2 linked regions of the Homo sapiens genome follow. The protein of the gene in region 2 purifies or fractionates together with the protein of the main gene of each other region. This does not show direct contact. Each region holds a gene or a part of one and is shown on either strand. Other genes may lie near its edges. The genes, in order: DDI2 and ZNF138.

Evidence for each region.
Region 1: the proteins of ZNF138 (region 2) and DDI2 purify together in Homo sapiens (co-immunoprecipitation; one large-scale study listed by IntAct). This does not show direct contact.

The regions. Positions count from the first base shown.
Region 1 is NC_000001.11:15,648,363-15,652,186, reverse strand, and holds part of DDI2 (protein DDI1 homolog 2), read right to left. Parts: intron 2,468-3,824; coding exon 2,364-2,467; intron 482-2,363; coding exon 292-481; intron 1-291. UniProt on the Homo sapiens protein: Aspartic protease that mediates the cleavage of NFE2L1/NRF1 at 'Leu-104', thereby promoting release of NFE2L1/NRF1 from the endoplasmic reticulum membrane.
Region 2 is NC_000007.14:64,800,670-64,804,493, reverse strand, and holds part of ZNF138 (zinc finger protein 138), read right to left. Parts: intron 1-3,824. UniProt on the Homo sapiens protein: May be involved in transcriptional regulation as a repressor.

The sequences.
Region 1 (3,824 bases), on a different chromosome or scaffold from region 2:
GAGAGGACTGCTTGAGCCCAGGAAGTCAAGGGTGCAGTGAACTACAATCATGTCACACTGCACACTGCACTCCAACCTGGGTGACAGAGTGAGACAATGTCTCCAAAAAAAAAAAAAAAAAAAAAAAAGGAAGATCAAAGAAGGAGGTTAAGAAGACAAATAATGAACACATCTACTACTGGACCATGAGACTAATTAAAAACTGGAAAGGTTCCTACCCCTTCTGAAGCCCACACTTCCCGGGCTTACCCATCAATAACAAGTATTGAAGAGTTTGGCCATCCCAAATACCTGCATCCTCTGCTGATTTTTGAAGGGCTTCTGCTAATTCTTGGTCTGCAATCTCCTCTGGCCGTACATCCTCTCTTCCAGCCCCATATGCCAACCGGGCACACTCTGGTAGCTCTCCCTCAGGAAGAAAGGTGGTCTGGGAGCCTGTGGTGCCGATCACGAGTACATTTTTCTTCAGGTCGATGGAACACTTGGAAGAAAGAAACCAAAGAATAATAGCAGATAAAACACCATGCAGAAAAATTATGCTCCTTAATTTAAAACTCCAATCACAAATGGCCAGGCACGGTGACTCATGCCTGTAATCCCAGCACTTTGGGAGGCTGAGGAGGGCAGATCACCTGAGGTCAGGAGTTCCAGACCAGCCTGGCCAACACGGTGAAACCCCACCTCTACTAAAAATACAAAAATTAACCAGGCGTGGTGGCACATGCCCATAATCGCAGCTACTTGGGAGGCTGAGGCAGGAGAATCACTTGAACCTGCGAGGCAGAGGTTGCAGTGAGCCAAGATTGTGCCACGCAAGGCAATCTCCACAGTATTCTTTACTCCATGCTAATGCTAACTTCCTTTTTTGTGTATTTTATAACTACTTAATAGACAGTTGTGCACATATATGATTTACATCTATAAAGTTGGAGACTGCTGGTCTATACCATGACTAAAAAAATAAGGAAAGGCAGTGACAAGGTTTTATTGATACATACACTCATTCATTCATTCGTTCTATTTAGAATGCTGTGAGCCGGGCGTGGTGGCTCACGCCTGTAATCCCGGCACTTTGGGAGGCTGAGGCGGGCGGATCACGAGGTCAGGAGATCGAGACCATCCTGGCTAACAAGGTGAAACCCCGTCTCTACTACAAATACAAAAATTAGCCGGGCGTGGTGATGGGTGCCTGTAGTCCCAGCTACTCGGGAGGCTGAGGCAGGAGAATGGCGTGAACCCAGGAGGCGAAGCTTGCAGTTAGCCAAGATTGCACCACTGCACTCCAGCCTGGGCAACTGAGCGAGACGCTATCTCAAAATAAATAAATAAATAAATAAATAGAATGCTGTGTCTTATTATCAATATGATGCATCTACTTTTACAGAAATATTTTAAAATAGTGACATAAAAATATTGATTAGCTATATTTTCAATTGTTTTTAACTCAATTTTGTTTTTTGAGATGTGGTTTTGCTCTGTTACCCAGGCTGAAGTGTAGTGGCACAATCTTGACTCACTGCAGCCTGGTCTCAAGGGATCCTCTTGCCTCAGCCTCACGAGTAGCTAATGTACCACCACGCCTAGCTAATTTTTGTACTTTTTGTAGAGACAGGGTCTCACTAAGTTACCCAGACTGGTTTCAAACTCATTCTGGCCTCAAGCAATCCTCCCTCCTTGGCCTCCCAAAATGCTGGAATTACAGGCATGTACCACTGTACCTGGCAGGTTGACTGGATATAAAACCCTACTGTGAAAAATGTGAAGTACCCAGTGAGGTCTACAGCCATACCACCCTGAGCATGCCTAATCTCATCTAAATACCCAGTGGACTAACTGCTTCTTCAACGACGGCAGTATATCTCAAATTATTGTGCTTTAGAGTAGAAAGATAAATATCAACACAAATTAATATATTAATTATGCACCCTGTACTAAATAAACACTTTCACTCCCAACATATACCTTCCTTAACCTTGAAGGTCTTCTTCCCAAGTACTGTTTGATCAGCATCAGAGAATGCTAAAGACTTACTTGACTCACACTTTTTAGTCAGGTCATCAAAAAACTACTAATCAGGATCTAACCAGAATCTGAAAATTATACAAGGGAACCAAACTGTCCTTTACAATCTCAAAACATTTGGCAAGATTTAACAGATTCACAGAGAGATTTCACAAAAACAGATTCTATCTATATCGACACATCATTTCAACCTCTGTATAGCAACATAATTTAAGGACATTTCCAGGTTTGAAAAGTCGTTATTTCTTAGTTTTCCAGTATATGTAACCAATAAAAATAATGTGATAATGACCATATTACAAAAAGCAGATGCAAAAAAAATAAGTGAAGCTCTTAATTACCTGGTGCCGTTTAAGCATGTCCAGTCCCAGAAGCATGTCCATGGGCTGTTCCTCAAGTATAGAGAAGGAACATGGCAAAAAATCTCCTTCAATCTGAACCTGAGCTAAAAAGCACATGAAGAGAAAAGGTTATTGTTACGTACTTCAAAACAGAGACGGAGTTTCGCTCTTGTTGCCCAGGCTGGAGTGCAATGGCATAATCCTGGCTGATGGCAACCTCTGCCTCCCGGGTTTAAGTGATTCTCTTGCCTCAGCCTCCCAAGTAGCTGGGATTACAGGCATGTGCCACCACGCCTGGCTAATTTTGGTATTTTTAGTAGAGACGGGGTTTTGCCATGTCGGTCAGGCTGGTCTCAAACTCTTGGCCTCAGGTTATCTGCCCACCTTGGCCTCCCAAAGTGCTGGGATTACAGGTATGAGCCACCGTGTCCAGCTGAAAAGTTCTTTTCATTATTATTTTTTGAGACAGAGTCTTGCTCTGTTGCCCAGGCTGGAGTGCAGTGGCGTGATCTCGGCTCACTGCAACCTCTGCCTCCTGTGTTCTCTGATTCTCTGCCTAAACCTTCCAAGTAGATGGGATTACAAACACGCACCACCACGCCCAGCTAATTTTTACATTTTTAGTAGAGACAGGGTTTCACCATGTTAGCCAGGCTGGTCTTGAACTCCTGACCTCACGTGATCCACCCACCTTGGCCTCCCAACGTGCTGGGATTACAGGCGTGAGCCACTGCACCCAGCCAAAAACTTTTTGTAGAGATTGAGTCTCGCTATATTGACCAGGCTGGTCTTGAACTTCTGGCCTCAGGCAGTCATCCCTGCCTTGGCGTCCCAAAGTGCTGGGATTACAAGAGTGAGCCACCACACCCAGCAGATGACCTATTTTTAAAGAACTCCTTCCTTACACAAGATATTGTGTATTTTCTGCTAAAATCTTTAATTTTCCTTTCCACATCTAGGTTTTAGGGTTGTTTTTTTTTTTTTTTTTTGAGACAGGGTCTGCTACGTTGCCCAGGCTGGTCTCAAACTCCTAGGCTCAAGCAATCCTCCCTCCCCTGCATCTAGGTGTTTACTCTGAATTTGCTTTTGTGTGGTGTGGGTAGGGTCCGATTTCTAATTCATTTCTCCCCATGGATACCTCTTGTCCCAGCAACATTTCCTAACATTTCCCCATTGCTCTGTAAGACTTCCTCTCATTGATCAATGTTCATAGAATCATGGGTTTGTTTCTACTCATATCTTCTAGATAGTCCTTTGATATCTAGAAGGCAATGTTTTTCTAGAGTATTTTGCCCATTCTCACAATATAGGGCCCACGCCAAATTTAAAATGAGCACATCCAGTCTCACAAAAAATCTACCAGGATTTTGATGGCATCTCAATGGTTCTGTGGATTAATGTGGGAGAACTGCCACCCCCAACATACTGAATCTCTAATCCATGGTAAAGCTTTCCTTTTAT
Region 2 (3,824 bases):
AAAGAAGGAAGGGCTTTATTCAGCCGGGAGCTTCAGCAAGACTCACAACTCCAAACAACTGAGCTCCCCGAGTAAGCAATTCCTGTCCCTTTTAAGGGCTCACAACTCCAAGGGGGTCCACATGAGAAGGCTGTGATCAATTGAGCAAGCAGGGGGTACATGACTGGGGGCTGCATGCACCGGTAATTAGAACGGAACAGAACAGGACAGGGATTTTCACAGTGCTTTTCTATACAATGTCTGTGATCTATAGATAACATAGCCAATTAGGTCAGGGGTCAATCTTTAACTACCAGGCCCACGGTGTGGCGCCGGGCTGTCTGCCTGTGGATTTCATTTCTGCCTTTTAGTTTTTACTTCTTTCTTTGGAGGCAGAAATTGGGCATGAGACAGTATGAGGGGTGGTCTCCTCCCTTATCCCCACCAGAACTTTTTAATGAAGAATTGGAATATGACTTTGTTAATATAGTGGAATATATTTGAGCTTGCATCATGGGTAAGTGAAGAGCTATTACGGTTTTTGGGTGGCCACATCACCCTTGTTTATTTTTCCTGTAACAGCAGCATTCCAATTTAGTGAAACGAAAGACACTGAAGTTATGCTTACCTATAATTATCTCTATTGGATAAATTAGTAACCATGTTATACTAATATCTACTGTAATAATTTGATAGTAACTTTTTTGATTAGATACACTTAGTATAATTTTAATGTACTATTTATAATGTACATAGGATTTTTAAAAATTGTCTGTAACCATAATCCAATTAAAACACTTTATATTCCAAATGTATGAATATAAAAATATTGAAATTACTAAGGGATTCATTCAAAGCAAATATTGTGGTGTTATATTCACACTACTGTATAAAATACTGCTTAATTTATATGAATGCAGTTTGTCTACAAACACTACACATAACTATGCTAATTGTTCTGAAGTAATAAGCAGAAACCAAAGCACAACCACAGACTCCACTGTTCAGTTCATACACTGAACCTCGCTTTTGCAATGTAAGTACTTCAGCCTGCAAATATTAAATAATTACCTTGGATAATCTGTTTTCTGTCAAAGGAGCTTACTTGGTATCTTTTAGTCTTCATCATTCTGTATTGCTAAATGTAATCCTATCTTTGTGCTCAACTTTTGTGTGCTCTTAAAATGAGCTTTAATCTAAACAAATCTGTGTCTACCTTAAAAGATACAGATTAAATGAAAAAAAAAAAAAAAAAACCTTTGCCAAAGCAAAAACAAAGCAATGAATCTGAGGTCCTAGATAAAGACAATCCTGAGTCAAAAACAATGACAAAAGATTTAGCTGTTAATATGATTTACATATCTTTCAAACAACAAAGAAAAAAATCTACATATAATTTAAGTGCTTTAAAGAAAAATAAATTAACAAAATATCCTCCCTTATTTTCATGCAGGAGAATAAACCCTCTTATTTCTAATTTATATTTTCTCCTACAGTGAGATATTGAGAAGTACACAATTGTTATGTAAGAGGGGGGTAGGGAAAAATAGTCACTCATGCCATTGTCTGGCTCAGTGAATCTGCATTTTTTTTTTTTAACATAAGACAAGACAAAACGAGGCAGGGGAACAATCAGATATGCATTTGTGTCTGTTGGGCAGGGGGGTGACTGTATCTGTAAAGATAAGCTATCAGTTTACATTTTAACAGAAACACCTTAGGGTAAAGATCTTGCGGCTCACTAGAAATTTTCTTGTGGGCAAAAGATGGGGGAGGTATGTAGCTTTTCTTCTTGTAGCCATCTTATTTAGGAACTGAGGACTAAGCTCTGAATTTTTTATCTTGCCCAAATTTCTATCTAATTGTTTGTAAGGGGTCATGCCCTACAAACCATAAATTCTCATCAGATGGGTTTTATTTGACCCTATAGATCGTGACTTACTTTCCAATCTGACTCTGGCGTAACATTATGAGACAAGAAAAAAAAAATCAAAATATTTAACACCAAAATATATTTTCTTGCCATGCCTTGAAATTGCCCTGCAAAAGTCTCTTGTGGGAAAAATGTACATTCTATAGACAATCCCCTTTCCTCTTTTGTTTTCCTTCCTTACATTCCAGATCCAGGAGATAATCAATCAACTAAGAGCCAGGCACCTTTTTAAGTCCAGTAAGAAGAAACATTTTTACAACCTGCTGTCTCTGAAGTCTGCTATCTGAGATTCCTCTCCACAATAAAACTTGGTCTCCACAATCCTTTATCTTAACCTGAACATTTTCTTTCTATTGATCCGAGGTCTTCAGATATACTCAACCAACTGTCAACCGGAAAATGTGTAAATTTGCCTATAGCCCGGAAGCCGCCACTTTGAGTTGTTCTGCCTTTCGGACAAATCCATGTATTTCTTAAATGTATTTCATTGATGTCTCATGTCTCCCTAAAATATATAAAACCAAGCTGTAACCCGACCACCTTGGCCTGATCACAGGACCTCCCGAGGGCTGTGTCACAGGCCATGGTCACTCATATTTGGCTCAGAATAAATCTCTTAAAATATTTTACAGAGTTTGACTCTTCGTCAACAGAGCCAAAAGAGGAAGGCAGGTTTGTGTGACCCCGTTCCCAGCTTAACTTTTCTGTTTGGCTTAATGAGTTTTGGGTCCCAAGATTTAATTTCCTTTCACAGGTGCACATGAATAAGGCAAGTTCTTAGAGATTTATGAAGAGACTTAGATTCTGATACAATAGTGGGAGACTACAACACCCCACAGACACTATTAGACACATTATTGAGGCAGCAAATTAAAAAAGAACTAAACTCAATACTTAACCAAATAGCCCTACTAGAAATCTACAGAACTCTCCATCTAAAAACAACATAATATATATTCTTCTCAGCACCATGTGGCACATACTCTAAAATTGACCACGCAATCCAAAATAAAACAATCCTCAGCAATTTCAAACATCCCAAAATTATACCAACCACATACTCAGACCACAGATTGATTAAAATATAATTCAATACAAGGAAAACCACTTGAAACCATACAAGTACATGGAAATTAAACAACCTGTACCTGAATAACTTTTGGGTATATAATAATATTAAGGCAAAATCAAAAAGCTCTTTGAAACAAATGAGAACAAAGTACAGCATATCAGAATCTCTGCAACACAGCTAATGCAGTGCTAACAGAAAAATTTATAGCACTAAATGCCCCCATAAAAAAGTTAAAAAGATCTCAATTTAACAACCTAACATTATGAATAAAATAAGGAGAGAAGCAAGGGGAAACAAACCCCTAAGCTAGCAGAAGGCAAAAAATAACAAGAGCTGTACTGAAGGAGATTTAGACATAAAAAACTATGCAACAGATCAAGAAATCCAGGAGTTAAATCTATTAAAAAAATTAATAAGCTAAATAACCCACTAGCAAGATTAATGAAGATTCAAATAAATACAATTAGAAATGACAAAAGGGACATTACCACTGACCCCAGAAAAATACAAATAACTATTGAAGTCTACTATGAACACTTCCATGCACACAAACTAGAAAATCTAAAAGAAATAGTACATTCCTGAAAAATACATCCTCCCAGGACTGAACAAAAAAGAAATTGAATCTCTGAATAGAACAATAACAAACTACAGAACTGAATTAGTAATAAATAGCCTAGCAACCAAAAAAAGCCCAGGACCAGAGACATCCACAGCTAAATTCTACAAGATGTATAAAAAAAAGAGCTGGTACCATTCTTTCTAAAACTATTCCAAAAAATTGAGAAGACACTCCCTCCTTCAACTCATTAGGTAAGAACAGCATCATTCAGACACCAA